Homo sapiens: one gene and its partner. The gene in region 2 interacts genetically with the main gene of each other region. Each region holds a gene or a part of one and is shown on either strand. Other genes may lie near its edges.

Region 1 (3,500 bases), on a different chromosome or scaffold from region 2:
CATTTGTTTACAAGTTTTTGTGTAGATGTATGTTTTTATTTCTCTTGGATATATACCTAGGAGTGGAATTATTGGATCATATGGTATCTCTGTTTAATTTTTTGAAGAATTACCAAACTGTTTTCCAAAGTGGCTTTCCATTTTACATTTCCACAAGCAATGTACAAATGTTCCAGTTTCTCTACATCCTCACTAATGCTTGTCTTTTTTATTATAGCTATCCTAGTGTGCATAAAGTGGTATTTCCTGGGTTTTTTTTTGTTTGTTTTTGGCTTGGGGGTGGGGAGTTGGTTTTTGTTGTTGTTGTTGTTGTTGTTGTTTTGTTTGTTTTTTGAGACGGAGTCTGTCTCTGTCACCCAGGCTGGAGTATAGTGGCACGATCTCAGCTCACTGCAACCTCCACCTCTCAGGTCCAAGCGATTCTCCTGCCTTAGCCTCCCAAGTAGCTGAGATTACAGCCATGCACCATGAAACCCAGCTAATTTTCGTACTTTTAGTAGAGACAGGGTTTCACCATGTTGGCCATGCTGGTCTTGAGCTCCTGGGCTCAAGCAATCCTCCTGCCTTGGCCTCCCAAAGTGCTGGGATTACAGGCATGAGTCACTACGCCCAGCTCATTGTGGTTTTAATTTGCATTTCCCTGATGACTAATGATGATGAGCATCTTTTCTTGTACTTACTGGCCATTTGCATATCTCCTTTAGAGAAATAGGTATTCAAATTCTTTGTCCATATTTTAATTTTGTCTTTTTATTGTCAAGTTATAAGAGTTTCTTATGTATTCTAGGTATAAGTCCCTATGATTTTCAAAAATTTTCTCCCATTCTGTTGTCTTTTCACTTTTTTTTTTTTTTTTTTTTTTTTTTTGAGACAAGGTCTTGCTCTGTCACCCAGGCTGAAGTGCAGTGGCTCAGTCTCGGCTCACTGCACCCTCCACCTTTCCAGCTCTAGTGGTTCTCTACCTCAGCCTGTCAAGTAGGTGGGACTACAGGCGCCCACCACCACACCCAGCAAATTTTTGTATTCTTTGTAGAGATGGAGTTTTGCCGTATTGCCCAAACTGGTCTTGAACTCCCGGGCTCAAGTGATCCACCTTCCTTGGCCTCCCAAAGAGCTGGGATTATAGGCTCTCTGAAAGGATGCTTCCCTCAAAGTGTGTATGAGACGGTTTCCCAAGTAGGGAAAGTGGATAAGTGGATTGTACTCAGTAACCCAATTACTAGTACCTTTTGAAGAGACCAGGCTGGGAATTGGTAGTAATAATAATAGCTGACATTTACCAGGGGCTACCCACATGCCAAGCATCATGCTAATCTTGCCAGGTCCTTCTGAGTCAGTGTGAATGGCAGGAGCACCACATGTTCCTTTCTCTTCAGTTCACACACATTGAGTGTCTTCATGTGTAAGTAACAACAGAGACTGAGGGCATATGTATTGTGTAAAAAAAAATTTTGTTACTGGGAAAATAGCCATTACTGGGAAATAGCTTTGTTACAGAAAGTCCTTCATGTGGCTGGGCACAGTGGCTCACGCCTGGAATCCCAGCACTTTGGGAGGCCAAGGTGGGTGGGTCACCTGAAGTCAGGAGTACAAGACCAGCCTGGCCAACGTGGTGAAACTCCGTCTCTACTAAAAATACAAAAAAATTAGCTGGGCTTGGTGGCATACACCTGTAATCCCATCTACTCGGGAGGCTGAGGGAGGAGAATTGCTTGAACCCGGGAGGCGGAGGTTGTAGTGCGCCAAAATTGTGCCCTTGCATTCCAGCCTAGGCAAGAGAGTGAGACTCCGTCTCAAAAAAAAAAAAAAGGTGATTTAATAAAAACAGATGAAGCCCTTTCATGATCACGTGCTATGAATTAAAAAAAAAAAAAAAACCCATACCAGTGTCGGTGGAACTATAATTAGTGCTAATATACCTTCATGGTATTATTTCTTATTAACTATTGAATGAGAATCGTTGCCCTATACCTTGCAATATTTTTTCATTAAAACTTTCCTCTTAACTCTTTCTGTGATAGGATGTCAAGGCCCACATCATGAGGCCTCCTTATTTGTGGGCTGCTGTGACCTTTGAGGCCCAAGCAGAGGCCCCATGGCCTCTGCTTGGGCTCTGCTGACGTTTCAAGGAGCACATCATTGGGGATCTGTCTGTGGGCGCCAGGCCTTGACCTCTCAGAGTAGACTAGTAGAGGTTTCTGGCCCAGTGTCGTTTACCTGTCCCATCTCCTGATGTCTGTGGTGGTTTCTGCCATGAAGTGAAAGACTTGTCCATGAGGCTTTTGCTATGTGAGAGGCAGAGTTTAATTTTAATTCCCAGTCTTCCCATCCCAGTGTAAACTTTTAGGATGTGCATTTGTGTTCAGTAGATGCTGAGCGCCGGGCTCTTGGTGATTTGTTGTGTTGTCTAAGTGAATTTGGGGTACTTGAATGTCTGAATGTATGTAGGTAGAAATTCCAGCATCAGTGTCCTTGCCTGCCACTGTACTCAGTCTCCCCTCCCCCTCATTACAGTGGAGTGTCCTTTTCCTCTGCACCTCACATGGAGGCTGCAGCCACATACTCTTCTGTTTGCTTATATTTTCTCTCTTGTGTTTACCTCAAACTTATATAGTTGAATAGTTTTGTTTGTAATGAAATTATTTTAAATAAGATGTTAGCATTTAAATTCAATCTCTTGACCGGGCACAGTGGCTCACACCTGTAGTCCCAGCACTTTGGGAGGCCAAGGCAGGCGGATCACTTGAGGCCAGGAGTTCAAGACCAGCCTGGCCAATATGGTGAGACCCCCGTCTCTACTAAAAATACAAAAAAAATGAGCCAGGCATGGTGGCTTGCACCTGTAATCCCAGCTCAGGAGGCTGAGGCAGGAGAATCGCTTGAGCCCTGGAGGCGGAGGCTGCAGTGAGCCGAGATCGCACCAGCCTGGGTGACAGACTGAGACACTGTCTCGAGGGAAAAAAAAAAAAATCAGTCTCTTATAGCCCTTGTTCTTTTTTTTTTCTCTCCTTCTCTCTTAGACTGTTTGTCTGTGGGATATAAACGCAGGACCAAAAGAAGGCAAAATTGTGGATGCTAAAGCCATCTTTACTGGCCACTCAGCTGTTGTAGAGGATGTGGCCTGGCACCTGCTGCACGAGTCATTGTTTGGATCTGTTGCTGATGATCAGAAACTTATGATGTAAGGTGGAAAATTCAGTGGGATCTTGTTAAATGGGTGACCTGAATGACCATCAGTGATTGCTGCAGGCTGTAGTTTGATTTTTTTTTTTTAAGTTATGGCTTTAAAAAACAGCTTTAGGTAGCTTACTCCTGTAATCTCAATACCTTGGGAAGCTGAGGCAGGAGGATTGCTTGAGACCAGGAGTGTGAGACTCTACACAAAATTTAAAAACAAAAAATTAGTTGGGTATGGTGGTGTGCACCTGTAGTCCTAGCTACTCAGGAGGCTGAAGTGGGAGGATCACTTATTATTTAGAAAAAAAGAAAACTAGGTATGG
Region 2 (3,500 bases):
AAGGATTATAGTTTTAATATAAATCTTAAGAGTAATTTTACTTTTTCTCCAATATTTCACATAATATAGCCAATCAATAGATGACTGGTAATTAGTGCCTCAACTAAGGTAGGACAGGAACAATGATTAAACATAAGCATGGATTACTGTTCTATCTAATACATTTATGAAGATTAATGAAAAGTTTGCATTTAATTGGATTTCTTCCTATCACTCCTTTTAAAATGCAATTTTACTTCTCTGAGGTTGGAATCACTTTGGCGTTAAAAGTCACAGTAGAAGGCATGCCAATAGTTTTCTCTTGGGCATTGGTTTTTAAAGTATAATTAAAAAATTATGGATCAGAACTGATGAAAGATTTACAAATTCTAGCAATTGAAAAAGTATCTAAGATTGGGAATAAATTGTGCAAGTGTGTTAATTGAACTGATAAATTGAGCTAATTGTCTTGCCCAAGATACTTAACTGAAGGGTACTGGAGTGAACCAAAGGGTTTAGAAAACATTGGTAGAATATGTAATCAAGAGGATTTGCAACAATGTTTGAAAAAATATTTTATATTGATAAGCATAAAAGATTAAAAGCAGGCTGGGCGCGGTGGCTCACGCCTGTAATTCTAGTACTTTGGGAGGCCGAGGCAGGTGGATCACCTGAGGTCAGGAGTTCAAGACCAGCTTGGCCAACATGGCGAAACCCCGTCTCTACTAAAAATACAAAAATTAGCCGGGCATGGTAGCAGGTACCTATAATCCCAGCTACTCGGGAGGCTGAGGCAGGAAAGTTGCTTGAACCCCGGGGGCAGAGGTGGCAGTGAGCCGAGATTGTGCCACTGCACTCCAGCCTGGGCGAAAGAGCGAAACTCCATCTCAAAAAAAAAAAAAAAAAAAAGATTAAAAGTAAAGCATATATGGGATGTTTGGAAAATCTTGGCAGTTAAACAGTTATTATAATACCTATTTTTATCTTAGGTACTGTTTTGTAGCATTGGCTATCTTTGTCTACATAAAATTCTAATAAATATTTTCTATGCACGAAATAGACCTAAAATCAAAGTTGAACAAATGTTGCAATTTTCTGTACCTCACTTTTAGATAGACCTTATTTATATTGCATGCGAACTCAGTGTATATTACAAAATTAAATGTATATTATACAAAAATTCTTTAATGAAATCTGTGCCTCTGTGTGCTGAGAGATGTAATGACATGTAAAGGATAATTGTCAGTGACTTTTTTCTTTCAAGGTTGAAAATCTTTCTAAACGATACGAAGAAATTTATCTTAAAAATAAAGATCTAGATGCAAGATTATTTTTGGATCATGATAAAACTCTTCAGACTGATTCTATAGACAGGTATTGCACATGGTATATTTGATTGATTTGCTTTAGATATAGGTTGATACTGATATAGGTAGATTATATAGTCTTTAGCTTAGTGACCTTTAGATATCATTTATAACAAATTACTTTCAAATGTCTTTATACAAAGAAAAGTTTAACAGTATTTTAAGCATATAACTTATCTACAAATATAGATTTAATGTGAATTGTGTGTCCTATAACAGTTACCTTTTTGCAGTTAACTGAATATAATTTTTTAAAATGTGCACCAAAAGATAATGGCTAAAGTAATTAGTTTCTTCAAATAGTGGTCTCTACCTTATTTCTATCCTTTCATATACTATTGCCTGCCTGGTTTATTTAAAAAAGTTTATACAAAAGTGTAGTCTCTGTTATTATCATGTAGAAACCTAAAATTGGAATGGTTGAGAGTGATTGTTAAAATTTTTGACTGATCATAAGTAAAGTTAATTTTGTGTCTTTAGCATGAACTCTTTTAATATGAAACTGAAAATATGCGTAATTTAGAAGTTAAACACAGTAAAATGTTTTAAATTTTATTTAAGTGGAAATAAAGTTTTTAGAAGGAATAATGCATTGAAAAACTTGAGTTTTAATGCTTTTTAATACTGAACAACTTGGTTATCAATACCACCAGGGAGAAAGCATCTGACTTTCACTTTTAAAAAAAGACTTAATGATTGGTATACCTCTTTGTCATAAACATAATGGAAAGAGACCCACAATTAAAAAGAGTAGTGAAAAATATTTTATTTAAGCAGCAGCTGGGTCATCTATTTTCTATCCTATCTATTATTGAGTTATCATTTTATATGATTTTATGAGACAACAGAAGCATTATACTGCTTTTTTGATGCATAAAGCACAAATTGTAAATTTTCAGTATGTGAATGACTTCACTTATTGTTATTTAGTTTTGAAACACAGAGAACACCACGAAAAAGTAACCTTGATGAAGAGGTGAATGTAATTCCTCCACACACTCCAGTTAGGTATGAATTTTCCTACTTTTAATTATATTATAATTTTGTTATTCATGGCTTTATAGTGTTTCAGATTTGTTCACGTTTCTTTATGTATTCATACATACATGTAAGAAATATATATTGAAGGCCAGGTGTGGTGGATCACACCTGTAATCCCAGCACTTTGGGAGGCCAAGGCGGGCAGATCACCTGAGGTTAGGAGTTTGAGACCGGCCTGGCCAACATGGTGAAACCCCGTCTCTACTAGAAATACAAAAATTAGCTGGGGGTGGTGGTGTGTGCCTGTAATCCCAGCTGCTCGGGAGGCTGAGGCAGGAGAATTGCTTGAACCCGGGAGGCGGAGGTTGCAGAGAGCTGAGATCGTGCCATTGCACTTCAGCCTGGGTGACAAGAGCGAAACTCCGTCTCAAAAAAAAAATGTGTATATATAATCTTTGTGTGCTGGGCATTTTACTGGTTGCTGAAGATATGGTTATTGGACCTAGTTTTGTCTGTTCTTAAAGAACATAACCTAAAATAGGAATGTGTTCCATTTCAGTAAATAAAAAAGAAAAAATTAAAGTATCACTATTTGATCTGCATGCAACCTTAAAGGATTAGAACTATTTTTTATGTCTTTTTCCTCACTCATTTCCCACATCAAAATCTGTTATCAAGGCTTGTTGAATAATCTACCTCCAAAATATTTCCTGAGTGCATCTACTTTTCTCCATTTCTGCTCTCACAACTCTTGTCCAAGACATTGTTCTCTTTCTCTTGGATTTTTTGCAGTAGCCTACTACCTGATCTTGCTCCTTCTGGTCTCATCATTGTTCCTGTCTCCTCACCATCAAAGATATTCTCCATAGAGCCCCCAGAATTTCTCCTAGAAATGTAAATCAGTTACATTCACCTTGCTGTTAAACCCACTGACTGCTTCCCATTGCAATTGGTATACAGTGCAAATTCCTTAACAATGCCTAAAAGATCTTATATGGTCTGGTTTCTGTTGCCTCTCCAACCTCATCTTGTTTTCTTTCTCACTCTGTGTTAGCCACACTTTGGCCTTCTCTGTTTCTTGGGCTTTCCAAGTTTTTTGAAAACCCTCGTACTTGATATTCCCTCTTCTTGAAATTTCCTCCTTTTCTTTCCATGGATTACCAACTGCTACTC

The links.
Region 1: changes in RB1 (region 2) and RBBP7 together harm fitness more than expected from each alone (negative genetic interaction), as found in Homo sapiens cells (one large-scale study listed by BioGRID).

The regions. Positions count from the first base shown.
Region 1 is NC_000023.11:16,853,363-16,856,862, reverse strand, and holds part of RBBP7 (histone-binding protein RBBP7), read left to right. Parts: intron 1-3,020; coding exon 3,021-3,181; intron 3,182-3,500. UniProt on the Homo sapiens protein: Core histone-binding subunit that may target chromatin remodeling factors, histone acetyltransferases and histone deacetylases to their histone substrates in a manner that is regulated by nucleosomal DNA.
Region 2 is NC_000013.11:48,366,251-48,369,750, forward strand, and holds part of RB1 (retinoblastoma-associated protein), read left to right. Parts: intron 1-1,243; coding exon 1,244-1,353; intron 1,354-2,276; coding exon 2,277-2,354; intron 2,355-3,500. UniProt on the Homo sapiens protein: Tumor suppressor that is a key regulator of the G1/S transition of the cell cycle. The hypophosphorylated form binds transcription regulators of the E2F family, preventing transcription of E2F-responsive genes.